Linked DNA regions of Homo sapiens. The protein of the gene in region 2 interacts with the protein of the main gene of each other region in a pairwise test. Each region holds a gene or a part of one and is shown on either strand. Other genes may lie near its edges.

The links.
Region 1: the proteins of ABITRAM (region 2) and PUS10 interact in binary tests that used the Homo sapiens proteins (3 or more experiments, as listed by UniProt).

What each region holds. Positions count from the first base shown.
Region 1 is NC_000002.12:60,938,565-60,946,705, reverse strand, and holds the end of PUS10 (tRNA pseudouridine synthase Pus10), read left to right. Parts: intron 1-1,597; coding exon 1,598-1,697; intron 1,698-4,272; coding exon 4,273-4,311; 3' UTR 4,312-6,483; downstream 6,484-8,141. UniProt on the Homo sapiens protein: Protein with different functions depending on its subcellular location: involved in miRNA processing in the nucleus and acts as a tRNA pseudouridylate synthase in the cytoplasm.
Region 2 is NC_000009.12:108,935,713-108,942,375, reverse strand, and holds the end of ABITRAM (protein Abitram), read right to left. Parts: intron 6,069-6,663; coding exon 5,939-6,068; intron 3,181-5,938; coding exon 3,104-3,180; intron 2,992-3,103; coding exon 2,922-2,991; intron 2,828-2,921; coding exon 2,690-2,827; 3' UTR 1,422-2,689; downstream 1-1,421. UniProt on the Homo sapiens protein: Actin-binding protein that regulates actin polymerization, filopodia dynamics and increases the branching of proximal dendrites of developing neurons.

The DNA.
Region 1 (8,141 bases), on a different chromosome or scaffold from region 2:
AGGACCTGGATTTACTCAGCTAAGCCAAGTATAGGTTATCTACTCTTAAAATCTTCTAAATTTTGTAATTTGGATCAAAGGATGATCAATTTAGACTCCAGTGGACAGATCTTTGTATCTTTGTTGTTTGGAGCATATTTGCCTATCATGGATGGAATTTCAAATCATGTATATATTTTTAAAAGTCTTCTTACCTAATCCTGGCCTTTAGTTCTGGTGGGCCAAGGAGAAATGTCTTTTGTAGAATTTGATGTCTTTTCAATCCTATTAAAACATTTTTAGGACAAGCCATGTACATGTACTTAAGGTATTAGCCAAGAAAGACTATGTGTTAAAGCTTTAGATGCCACATGGTTATACACAGAAGTATATTAATTTTTCACTTACTAAATTTACTTTATATATACCTTATATATTTACATTGATCACTGCACTGAGCTAGCTCATTTGACTTAAACCTTGTCCCTCTGGTTAGGAATAAGAACCTCTCTGGACATTTTAACTGGTTATTCTGGGGCTATTTGGTTTTCTCTCCTCATCATTGCTACGCAGAAGGGGATTCTTTAAAGAAAATGAGAGAAAATGGATAATAATTGTTGGGTAGTTGTGAGTTTACCAAAAAACACAGTTACTAGATAATTATATGTCTTATGCTTTAGTCAAAACATTTGGCAAAGGTAGAGTGAGTAAAACGTTCAGAAAGTGAGGACATAATATCAGCATATTATAATATAGATTTTTCATCATCTGGAAACAAATTTATTTCTCTATTCAAGTTCCATTAATTATTTTCTACTAAATGCTGGTTTGTAGAACAAAACATAATGCTGCATTTTTACCAAATTCTGGCAAAAACAAATCTTTTAGATAAATATTGTCAAAGCTGCAGTACAGTCCTATGTAAGGAATGTTAATCTTAAAAACAAATTCTAGAATTAGTTATTGATTTCAAAATTTGAAATACAATTTTGAGAGAAATACAAAGTTGCCCCTTTAAGAAAGAGAGAGAGAATTAACTTAGTTCTTTTGCTAACCATGTTAGCAAACTAGACGGTAGGTCTTTGGTAATCCTTCCGAAGAGCCATCATTAAGACTAAACTAATAGTCTCATTATTCCTTCCACCCTATTGCCTCTGGGTCATGTTACAAGGAATGCCATCATTGAGATCACTCTCTGTGTGGCTCTGTGGAAACCTACCATCTGGCAGGTGACAGTTGCCATTATTAAAAAAATGGGACTAACAAGATAATAACATAGAAATTGTGGCAAAGTTGTTTTTTAATAAAAGCATTGAGCTATGGTTAATTTTTAAAATCCACATCCAAACCTTGGCACTTGGAGATGAGCTATAAAGAAAAAAGAAAGTAATGATTTTTGGTAAGTTTGATGTAAACACATTTCCCAGGCTCTGATGTTGGCTGCCAGGCTACTAGGGACCACATTGCCAAAGCTTATTTTTTAAGACACACAAGTCAGAGCTCAGAAGTAACCTTTCTTTTGTAACATTTCTGCTCTTATTATTATTTTTGCCTGTCAAATCTTACCAAATAGTTGGTACAGCATGCTGTCTTCATTTTTTCCTTAAACAAACCCCAGCTACATTAAAGAGTTTGTACATGGAGACTTCGGGAGAACCAAGCCAAACATTGGGTCCCTGATGAATGTGACTGCAGACATTCTGGAGCTGGATGTTGAGGTAAACCATTTTGTTGTGGAATGCACATTGGCAAATTGAATTCAACCAAAGTTATGCTCTTTGGCATTAAGCCATTTTAGTATCACCCACCTCCATAGGTATTTGAGAATGGTGAAAATCTCACAGTAACATTGTATTGAAGGGAGGGACTGTCTTCGGATTTTTTTTTTTAATATGAGGTCTCATTTATGTTCCTTGAAAATATATAGCTAATTTATTAACTGTGCTTTACATGTAGTATCAAATCTAAACCCTTAAACCAAGCACGGAAATAGTCATTTCCATACCTGTTGCGTTTTATAAAGACTTTAAAGCAGCATATTCAGAAACATGGATTCACAAGGGTAGAAAGTGAGGTGAGCCAATGGTTCTTCATAAAAGCAGTTCTATAAGGACCCCTGTGATGTGGTCCAAGTTCTCTGCTCTTACAGTCTGAATTGAAACAAGGTTAAATTCTAAAGTAATTGTAAGAATGGTTCTGTCGGGCAAGTCTCCATAAATATTTCATTTGAGTATCAATAGGTGTTGAGTCACGAGTGGTGTTTCTTCATGAAAATCTGACTAGGAATAGAGTACCTCCCCCGCTCCTCTCCCCAGAATCTTAGGACTTGGGGATTTGTACTTGGGAATAATATCAAAGTTATAGAAAGAAGTGGGCATAGTTGCCCAATGTGAAAACATCTATGGTAATCAAATGATCACTGGAGTATTACTTCCTTACCAGCAATTCTCTCAAGTGCTCTGGGATTAGATTAGCTCCTGCAGTACAGCCAGTGATCGTGCCCTCAAGGTTGCAGGGAGCCTCTTCAGTGAAACTATCATTTGGAGGAAGAAAACCTTCTGTTAAAGAAAATCTCTACTCATCATCTTTTTTTTTTTTTGAGACAGGGTCTTGCACTGTCACCCAGGCTGGAGTGCAGTGGTGCGATCACGGGTCACTGCAACCCTGACCTCTCGGGCTCAAGCGATCCCCTGCCTCAGTCTCCCGAGTAGCTGGGACCACAGGCATGAGCCACTATGCCTGGCGTTTTTTTGTTGTTGTTGTTGTTGAGATGGGGTCTCACCGTGTTGCCCAGGCTTGCATTAATCTTTTTTTACTTTAATTCTCAGAACAGTTAGGAGTGTCAAAGACTCACAGGCCAGTGTTTCTCAACACTGACTGCCCACTGGAATCACTTGTGGAGCTTTTTAAGCACTACAACTTGCCTCCCCTCCACACACACACACACACACACACACACACACAAGATTGTGATCAGTCATGTTTTATTTTCAGCTTGAGAAAACACTCATTAATTTACATTTGGGTGTTTGGTATATGGCTATATTCTGAAACAGAACAAAAATATCTTCTTGAGATTTGTAAAAGACACACACACACATAGCTATTTAGGCTTTTCTAATAAATTTTTTTTGAAGCCAGTACGTGAAGTGACTCATGGATTAATGAAAAAATTTTCAGTAAATAATTTTATGTTTTAAACTTTAAATGTCAATAAAAGCCACAGATAGATACGGTGGGTTTTTTTTTTTTTTTAACTTTCTCTTAAAGTAGATCCCCTAGCCTTTGATAGACCTGGTATGTGTTTATGTGGAGACAAATAGTCTGTTTACTGTAATTTCATTCTGACTCAAAGATCAAGGTTTTGTCCTAGAAGAACAAAATAAAGGTAAGTAGAGATAGATGAACTGGATTTTAAAGAAACAGAAATTCTACAGAACTGAAGCACAAAGATCCTTAATCCTTTTCTGGTTCCAGGTCATCTTTCATAATCATTTATTTCACATTTTGTTGCTGTGTTACAACAAGACTATAGGCTTATAGACTACTTGAATATTTGTTAAATGCAAGATGAGAGAATAAAAATGATCAGAAGAATAAAAGTTTCTGAGACTTCTGAGGGAAAATTGGTGGTCACTTGAATTTGTTTGCTACTTTTACCCATAAATACTTTTTTTTTTTTTTTTTTTTCTGAGATAGATAGGGTCTCATTCTGTCACCCAGGCTGGAGTGCTGTGGCGTGATTTCGGCTCACTGCAACCTCTGCCTCCTGGGCTCAAGCTGTTCTCCTGCCTCAGCTTCCTGAGTAGCTAGGACTACAGGCGTGTGCCACCATGCTTGGCTAAATTTTGCATTTTTAGTGGAGACGGGGTTTTGCCATGTTGGCCAGGCTGGTCTTGAACTCTTGACTTTGAGTGGTCTGCCCACCTTGATCATGTTGATCTATATAATTGATCGGCCTCCCAAAGTGCTGGGATTAAAGGTGTGAGCCACCACACCTGGCCCCATAAATACCATTTAAAAAATTTAAATGTATTCTCTTATCAGTCAAAAAGCACAGTTAATAACCAACTGAGTAGCCAAATACTGCTACTCAATTAATTCAGAAGACCTCAGGCCCAAGAATACCTAGAACAGACTTGAGGGTTAATTTATGGTATTCAATAGCTCTTTTCTTCAAATGCAGTTTCTTCTGTTGCACTATATTAAAACTATTAAATTTATACAGCATTACCAGCAAATGCTTACCACAACAGTAATATCTGTTTTAATGACTTCTTTTCTCCCTTCTAGTCTGTAGATGTTGACTGGCCACCTGCTCTGGATGACTAGCTTTCAAATTTGGAGACAAAGAGTATGGTTTTCCTGGCATGATGTGGACATCCATGGAGCACATGCCGTAAAATGGCTGTTTACCCACCATAACGGTGTCTTGAAAACTATTTGGATCATGTTGATCTATATAATTGTTAATTTGTTGTAACATCTCAGGATCTATATATGTGTATATTTTGTGTTAAATTGTTCCAAGGATGTCTTAGGATTTTTCTCATTCCCTCTTTCACCCCCACAAACCAAACTATGAATAATGAAATAATTCTCCTTAATTCTTTCATTTAGAGAGGTGCACAAACAGGACACATTCTCTGTTAACCTAAGAAGCTGTAATTTCAGCAAGATTTCCCTCCACAAGAGATATACCACCTTTAAAATCATGTTCTAATTTTTGTAAATTATCTGAATAAAAGTTATATCTAGATTTATGCAGCATAATATCCTATAATAGTCTAAGATTGCAAATGCAAATCTGACATCATTATTTTCCCCAGGAAGCCTCAAACAAGCTATTACCAATGAAGTTCTTTTGGCTGTGATTTGTCATAAATCTTAACCAAACTATGAATAATGAAATAATTCTCATTAATACTTTCATTAAGAAAGAATTTTGACAATCTAAAATTGTCAATATAGGTTTCCTGTGGAGGGAAAGTAAAACCGTAGGAGCCAAGGCATGCCATGGTAGGAGCCTTTCATAAATCTTTTAAATAAGGAGAAACAAGTGCCTTTAATAACTTCAATCCCAGGGTTAAGAATTTGAAAAATTGAGATTGCTAAACAAAGACGAACTGGTATTATTTCAGAATGCTTCAATATATTATCCAATTATAAACATTTTAATAATACCTTATTAAAGTAGATAGGATATTGTCTCCATTTTATAAATATGGAAACCAAAGACTAGAAGTTAAATGACTTATCCAAAATTGTTAGCTACTTCTATATTGAGGACTAGAACTGAAGTTTCTTGGTTTCTAGGGTCTTTCTAATAAGCCCTATTACTGAGCACCTGTTTGTGTGAAGGGGCAGCTATGGATGCCATTTAAACTCATGTAACTGATAATTAACTTTTGGAATGTAGTTACCAAATCAAAGAGCTTACCAAAAAATAGCCCAAGACTATTTAATACAATCTTATATAGTTACCATTTGTTATTAAGTTAAACCTCAGTTGGTATTATGAAGAGGAAAAACATTAAGCTAAACCTAAAAAAAATGAATGGGTCATTTAAGTTTCAGAAAGGAGCCTCATTACAATTTCAGATTTGAGTATAATTTCCATCACCCTAATTCAACTATTTGAGCTTTTTTTAAGAATACATGTGACTTGACTAGTATTAGATTACTAACCATTTCCCATCTCTATATTAAACATAAATCACAGATACCAAGATTCACTTTAGATATGAGGAAAATGGTTTTAATGGACACAAAGGAGTCAGCCACGTTGGAACCAACATAGTTTCATACCACGTTGAAACCATGTGTTTGATATGCAAATAACAGCAAATAATTTTTTCACTCTTGTCAATGCCAATGCATTGAAAGGCCCAGAAAATGAGAAAAGGATAACAAACTTTTGATAAAAAGGTAAGAATTTCTGTGTGGATGTTCCTCAGTTTCTGGGAAAATTTTGCTACAAAAGAGATTTAAATAATTTAGGAGGCAGTCTTTTGCATGGTATTTTTGGCTTACCTTTGAATCTAGTGGACCTGTAATATGTAAGAATGAAGAATGTGCTTAGCAAACTGAAATGAGAAGATTTCTATTTCTTAAATTTCTATTCCTGAGATTATATAAAATTTCACGCAAAGAGTAAGCATTAGCTTTAAATACTTCTTCCAAATGTTCCTAGAATTTTGAGACAAAGATTGTTAAAAATTAATGTATGTCTTTGTTTTAGGCAGAACTGGAAATATTAAGTAGTGAGAGTACTATAGTTTCCCTTTTGCCTACATAAAAGCATTTTAAAATTAGTTTTATGATTTCTTTGTAAGCTTTATTTAAATTCAAAGTCTTTTTCATAACACTTAAGAGAAAGAGCCCTTTGTACTTCTTAGTATCTCTTATATAGTCCCAAATATAGTCTGTGGTTTATTTTAGGAAAAACATCAACTCTGAATACCTGGAAAAGTCAAAAGAAAATAAAGTTGGTAAAATGAAAAATGTCCAAGTAAGAAAACCGGTTACATTTGCAAGTTATGTGAAGTAAATTTAGAAGTTAAATTTCCATTTTGTAAGAGAAAAACATCTTACTTGGCAAATCTTTTCTTTTGGAGCTAATTATTCTTTGATTTTTAAGTCCACATAAGAGAATGAACTTTGATATCAGCTTTTCTGATTTTTTAACAAAGGCTACCCTTGTTTATTATGAAAAATATTACTTTTATGATTCTATTTTGAATTTTTAAATTTTGAAATAATTCCAAACTTACAGGAAAAGTTAAAGTACAAAGAACCTTTTTCCCTGAACCATGGAGCCAGTGCTGTCTCATGATCTTAAAGGCTTCAGTGTGTAATTTCTACAAACAAGGACATTCTTTTACTTAACCACAACACAGTGATCAAAACCAGGAAATTAACACTGGTATATTACCATCTAACCCACAGACCCCGTTCAAGTTGCCAGTTGTCCCATCAGTGTCCTTCATAGTCAAGTGCTCACATTGCATTTTGTTACGTCTCTTTAGTCTCCACCACTCTTAAAAGAAGTTTGTCTTTCTTGACTTTAATTACTTTAACATTTTTGAACACTTCAGGTCAGTTATTTTGTAGACTGTTCCTCAATTTGGGTTTGCCTGATGTTTCCTTTTTATTAGATTCAGATTGTACCTTTTTGGCAAGAACACCACAAAAGAGAGATTGTCTTCTTGCATCTTATCAGGTGTCACACAGTTTTGATTTGTCCAGTTGCTGGCTGGGGCTTTGGTCAATTGATTAGGTATTATCACGAGGCTTCTCCACTTTTATGGTTATTCTTTTTGCCCCTTGTAGTTAATAAGTATCTTGTAGAGAGATCATCCAACTTTCACTCACTAGTTTTAGCATCCATTGAAGATGTTCACCTGAATCAATCAGTACCACAATGATTGCCAAATACAGATTTTCTAATTCCATCATTCCTTTTACATTTGTTGGTTGGCATTACCCTAAAAGGTAGAGCTTTCCCTTCTCTCCAATTTATTCATTGATTTATATCATGTGGACTTGTGGCTTATTTTATTTGAGAAGTTGTAATTTGTTCGTTTGGCCAGTGGCGACCCCTTCAAGCTGGCTTCTGTGTCCTTTGGTATGTCCCCATCATTCTTGGAGCATGTTCTTACTTTCTAATACAAAAAGACATTCCATGCTCATCTTTGTATTTCCTCTGCACTAACTCTGCAAGGTGCTTTTTCTCTAAGATCTGGTCTCTTTTAGCAGAAAATGGTATTTAGAAACCAAGATCTGGGCAGTAGGTATGCTCATTGTTTGGTGCCATTGCTGTTCCCAAGCCCTCTCATGGAACAGAGCTAGGGAACAAACATGAATGCATGTGCATGCACACACACACACACCCCACTCATACACACACACCTATACATCTCTGTATCTACACATACCGAAAGCTGTAGGAGTTTATACCAGTACTTCCAATTCCAACCTTATTCTAGTTTTCACCCTTTCCAAATTTGTAATTCTCTGACTATAAGAAATCTGGCTCCTGCTCTTTCCCTGCTGCCACTGAATTGTATAGAGGCGGAGTCTCGGGTGCATTCAAGATCCGGCTTCACTCGTAACCCACTGCCATGGCCGAGGAAGGCAGTGCTGCTGGAGGTGTAATGGAC
Region 2 (6,663 bases):
TGGGTGAATGCAGGGTTTTCCTTAAACCTGTGGACTCTTCAATCCCTCTGTTTACCAAGTGTGACAAAAATCCCCTTGATGACCCTGTCCCAGATTGTCCATGCCAGCAGCAAGTTTGTTCCCTAATAAGCATTTTGTACAGCAAGGGTGGGTCTGCTGTGCTGTGTATGTCCCTCACCTACTCCCAAAAGTAAGGTAATGGAACTCCACAGAATCCTGGAACAACTCCTGGAGAGTATGAGATGGGTTTTTGGTTCTAGTTCTAGCATAGCTGGCCAGTCTGCCCTGAATATTAGCTGGGATTCTAAGCCTATCTTATAGACTTAAAAGATATTTTGAACTTTCTCAGTATTGATTGATGGAATGGAAGACAAAGACAGAATAAGGAAGCCAAGAATCTATTTAAATTCTGAATATCACACATTTGAAATGTTCACTATAAAACAAAACAAAAAACATCTTTCTTTAGTCTTTTTAATTTAGGAGTTTAAAGCTTTTCTTGTTTTTGTGGGTGGGGTCATGATTGAAGGATCTGGTTTATAGGTTTTCTCCTTATAATATAGTATGGCCAACTTTGTGTTAGACTTCAGTCGTAGTATTTGTATCTTAATGCTTTGACATTCATTTTGAAATCTAACAGGGTATGTCAGTTATCAAATGGCAGTAGATAATATAAGCTTATCTGATGATCTTTATCTGGGTCAGCCACCACAATCAGTATTCACAAAAGATCCGGAAGAACCACAGTAATGCCAATTGACCACAGCTAGTCAATATTTTATTGAGGAAAATTTTCACTGTAGTCCTTCGGGAGAAAATGTGATGCACTCAGCTCTGTTAATAACCTTTTTAAAATCTTTCCTTAAACAGTCAAAATCATTAAGCATGATTTTTATTCTCTGAAACCAAAGTACTCTTTTAAATTACAATAGAAATAATGGGAGAATGATGTGAGGTAATGTTACATGTAAAATGTTATACACAATTCTTTTACTACGTTTACTGTCATAGTTTTATGACGCCTTCAAGAGTCATTGTGCTACTTAAAGTGAGGATCTGCTGGTTTGTTTATATTTTCAGCTAATAGCACCATCGTGGAGGTGTTTATCCACTTACTACATGTATCATGTCTGGGGGGTATATTTAGGGGGATAGTCATGCTGGCACTCAGATTACAAGTTTTTCCTATGAACCAAAATGTTGTTTTATTTACAAAATAAGTAAGTATTATTTTGTAAATAATTAAAACTTAAAAATTCCAACCCCCACTTGTACTTTCATTAGATAATATTTTTGCATACCTGAAAAAATACTGTTCTCTAGTGAAAGAAAGAGCAAGTGGGGGTTGGGAAGGGGTAACTTATGACTTCAACAGCATAAGAGGATAGATAACCAATGGAATTAATACATCGAATGATTTCTTCTGTATAAAAGTATATTTTATTTAAAAACAGTGATATTGACATGTATGTTATAGCCCTTACAGAAAAATAACACGTTTTATAGTCCTTTTATTTGAAATTCAGTGTAAATCACTCTTAAACTATAAATTCACAGTTGTTGGAGGTTTTTTTTTACTTTAAATGATGTGAAAGCATTTGTTCCATTCAAAGGCCCCTATGCCTTTGAATGACATATTCTCAGTAACTTCTTTGCCAGTAACTAGAGTATGTGAGACTGAGTAACTATAATGTGCATATTTCAAGAATTAGCTTCCCGCTGCATTATAACACATTTCCTAGGAAAGCCTTTGTATTTTTCATAGCCTTTTCACATATCCCTCATTTAAGAAGTCACAGTGTTGCAGTTTTACTTTGTTTCAGAGGGGAAGGCCATCTTGTTGGCATAAGGGGGACAGAAGATATAATATACTCTACACTCCGGCCTCTTCCCTACAACCTAAAAGGGAGAGGAGTTGAGGCAGATGGGCTAGGACTAGGCTTTTTGGTAGGCACATTATAGAAGACTGGGTAAGAAAGGTGGGTTAGGTTTTTTTAAACTTCAAACTGTTAGGAAAACGAGGCAAAAGCAATAACCATACCATATGTTCAAACAGAAGTAGGTTAAAATGTAGTAGTTATCCCTTGGTTTACATAGGGGATTGGTTCCAGGAACTTCCACATATACCCAAATCCATACGTGAGAACTCAAGTCCTGCAGTTGGCCCTTTGGAACCTGAGTATATGAACCTGCTCTATAAGTGGGTTTCGTGTTTGGTTAATGATATATTTTTGACTCGTTTATAGTTGAAAATAGTCCATGCATAAGTGGACCCTTGCAGTTCAAACCTATGTTGCTCAAGGGTCAAATGTATTTACTTCTGGATTATGGGATGATGGGTAAATTATTTTTACTTGGCTACTTAAAACTCTTCTGTATTTTCTAAATCTTCTTCAAAGAGCTTTGTTTGTTTTTAATCAGAAAAACATGCCTTGCATGCCAGTTGTTAGAGAGATGCAAGAGAACAGTGTGAGTACATGGGCAGGCCAGATCTGGCAGGCTGTAGACAAATGGGAACCAAGGCTCATTATGAAGACAGAGAGGGAAAACTAAGTGAAGCACTAGGCCTCCCCTGCATATGGCTGGCTGTTAGGTATGCTTTACATATACTGGTTCTTCTCCTTTAGTACCCTGATGGTTTAGGCCAGGTAACAAGAATCCCACTTTGCTTTTTGTTCCATGTCAATCCTCATGACGTAGCTGTTGTGGCATTAATGCGTTTCACCATGACTTCTTCATATTGTTTTTGTGTCAGTAACCCTTCTGTTATGCTTTTACTTTCTTCAAATTTGGGTAACACAACTGCAATGTAGCCTTCAGTAGATGGCTGGAAAGGAAAGAACATTTAGTACTGTCAAACGATGAAAAAAAAACCAATAAAAGGTATGTGGATGAGATCATATTTTTTCTCTCTCTTTTACCTTTTCTTGAAGAATAGATGGCTTATGGAGGATGTTTTCATTCACTTCCATCAAACGTCCTCTAACACAACTATTAAAAAAATTTAAGATTTCAGCATGTTTACTTAGTTAAAAAAAATTGTTTCTAAGAAAAAAAATTACCTCCCTTTGGTCTCCTAAATGGTGGCTAAAAAGTTACTCACCTAGACACAGTATATTCTTCACCATCTGAGCAGTAAATCTTACAGAGAGGTGCAAGCTCTGTTAGAAACTGTGCCCCCTGTGTAATGAGACGGAAGAAGTAATCAGTTGATGGACATTTCCACTTTCCTTTGAGAAGTAGCCCTTAGGTGTATAACAGGATGTATTCCTGGAACTGGTGTTTTAAATCAGTTACTTCAGTATATAAAAACCATTCATTAATTTCAGAACCTATATGAATATAAGTACCTACTGTGTGCCAGGTGCCATCCTAGGTCTAGGGAAAAAAGCTAAGACACATGATAAATGGGAATTTACAGACTGATAATATATTTTATCAACTGTAAATGAAAAAGCTACATATAACCAGGTATAAAGATTTCAAAAGTGTGGGAAAATCCATCAACAAGAAACAATATAAAATTCAACATGACACAGTATGACAGCAATATTGTATAAAGTTAGTTTCATTAAGATTTCTACCTCATTTTAATATTAGAACTTAATAGATAAAGGAACTTATTTACCAGGGTCAATCACTAAGACTTTTTGAAGAAGGGATATTGTTCTTTCCCCCCCCCCCCTTTGTAATTCCCCAGTGTGTTAGTAAGGGATATTTTTTCTAGTTAAGAAAAACAAAAACAAAAACATGCACTTTGAGGAAAATGTGGAAAACAAAAGTTTTAAGCAGCAAAATAAAAATAATTGACCCATGAGTCAATACTACATTTTGATGTGTATGTATTTGAATGTCATGGCATGGTTATTGTTTCATGTACTCCACTAGATGGATATACCTGGGGAGGCTCTCACAAGTATCTACAGGGAGGCTCATGAGAGCCAGTGCAGGCATGTTTCATGTGTTGCCCTCTTTTCTCCCATGAATTTTTCCTGTAGTGGACATAGGCATTTCAGGTTAAGATGCTATTCTTTATGACCCCTTTATTTACCACTCAAAACATTTTTAGATGGCATTCAGATATTACTATATTGGCTTCACTCCTCCGCACGTGGGTTCTTCATTTTAAAATACTAGAGTCATTGTGACTTTCTGCTTTTGGAAGGAAGGGGAAGGCTTGTGTTAAAAGAGCAGACACAAAAGAGCTAGGTCTGTGCCAAAACAGCAGAAATGTTTTGATGCCTTTTTGTCACCTCCTTTGGGAGAATGATTGGCAGTTCTGAGATCCAGTGAAAACTTACTGTAGTGGGTTCAATATGCAGGTCCCTCTCTGTTCTTCACTTGTAACAGGAGTGTTACTTTTTTTTTTTTTTTTTTTTGAGACAGGGTCTTGTTCTGTCATCCAGGCTGGAGTGCAGTGCTGCCATCATGGCTCACTGCAGCCTTGACTCCTGTGCTCAAGCAATCCTCTTACCTCAGCCTCCTGGGTAACTGGGACTATAGGCACATGCCACCATGCCCAGCTAATTAAAAAAAAATTTTTTTTTTTTGGTAGAAATGAGGTCTTGTTATGTTGCCTAGGTTTGTCACAAATTCCTGGCCTCAAGTGATCTTCCCGCCTCGGCTTCCCAAAGTGCTGGGATTACAGGCATGAGCAACTGTACCTGCCTTAAGTGTTACTATTTTGGACAGAGATTTATCATTGAAACTTCAGAAGTCTTAAGTGTTATTGTAACTTGTAGACTATCGTTTAAGAGAGGTGCATGCTTTTCTAAGTCCACTAGTTTCTTGAGTGAGGAAAAATCAGTAATTGTAAAGCACAATAAATCAGTAATTATTAGGGGACTTCAGGCCTACAAAGGGGGGTTTGAATAAGGGTCTCCTAGAATAGTGAGAGCAATTAGCAGAAACTCTTAGTATGAACTCAGTAAATGAACGACTTAAATCATCCACAGAAACTTTCCCAACCAGTGGGTTTGTTAAGACATTTTAACATGTCACTAAATTCTCCTTGGCATGATACTCTTTTAATAATCTGTCCATTTTGCCTAGAGTTACAGAGGGTAGAGATAGCATTCTATATAACCGAGTGTTGTGTGCAGGTACAGGGGGTGGGTACATGAGTATTACATTGACAATGCTTTAGGAATGGAAAAACAGTAAGGAGCAAATATATTTTCTCGTATTCATGTTTTTGTTTTTGTTTTTTTGAGACGGAGTCTTGGTCTTGCTCTGCCGCTCAGGCTGGAGTGCAGTGGTGCGATCTCAGCTCACTGCAACCTCCGCCTCCCAGGTTCAAGCCATTCTCCTGCCTCAGCCTCCCGAGTGGCTGGGATTACAGGTGCCCACTACTGTGCCTGGCTAATTTTTGTATTTTTATAGAGATGGGTTTTCACCCCGTTGGCCAGGCTAGTCTCAAACTCCTGACCTCATGATCCACCCACCTTGGTCTCCCAAAATGCTGAGATTATAGGCGTGAGCCATTGTGACCGGCCCATGTTTTTCTTTTTTTTTTTCTAACTCCCTTGGGAATTTTTTTTCTGTTTAATTTACATGTGGAAATATATGGTAAAGAAGAGTTAGTCACCTAAATTTTACAGAACTCGACATACTAGTTTAATACAACTAGAAGGGACAAAATATCTTGTTATATTGCTATTAGAGTTCTCCTTTCAAAGGCCTGCCTTCCCCCTCCTCCATCCTGGGCATTATAGGGATAGTAGCACAGAACCTAATATAACAGATACTACACCTCCTGAGATACCTAATTTGGGGGAGCTGAGAATTTCTTTAGGTGAAAGTATACCTAAAATTAGCACCTCAAACTGCTAGAGAAGTATGCTAAGCATATGCTACTGGATTCTAAGGTTCATTGGATCTGTCATTACCATGAATATAGAGGATGTAAGTAGATAATCACAGAATTACAGGAACATACCCGCTTAAATTTCCCAGAGACCTTGTTCTGAAGTCTGCTACAGTTGGTACTGATCTGATAGGAAATGCTTTTAATTGTTTTTCCACTTTGAAGAACTGGATGAGATTCTGCCAATGTGATGACACATATTCTACAAGGAGAAAAAGTTGATCCTGTGTGATTGCTTGGAATAATTTTTCCTCCCATAACTCCTATTGGAACAAGAATGTATGAACTGGTATTTGTTTAGTCAAACTATCATCTTCCCCCTTTTTCCTTTGGCTACTATTGGGGCATAACTGTAGAATAGAGAATACAATAATAAAAGAGAAAACAAGATTGAATTTCTTTCCCAGGAAAGGGAAGAGTACCAGAGGTCTTTAGGTAGGTAGCACTGGGGTAGAAGACAAAGAAATAAGGCATGCCTGTGTATACGAGATACCATACATGTCTCTACCGTAGCCCTTTCTGTGGGCTCTGAACAGTTCAGTAGTTGGGCACAGACTGGCCACTTCAAGTAGCAGCTGATGATGTGGTCCTCCATTTGGATGTTTGAGTAATCAAATTTATATGTTCAGAGTGGCCAGGCACTGGAATACTCATTCTTGCCAAACAAACTCCTATAATAATACCATTTCAACACAGTAGAAGATAATTAATGCATGTTTGTTTAGTGAACATTTGTTCAATCCAAGACCACAAGACCATACCAGGCTACAATACCAGGAAAAAAAAATTTTTGATAA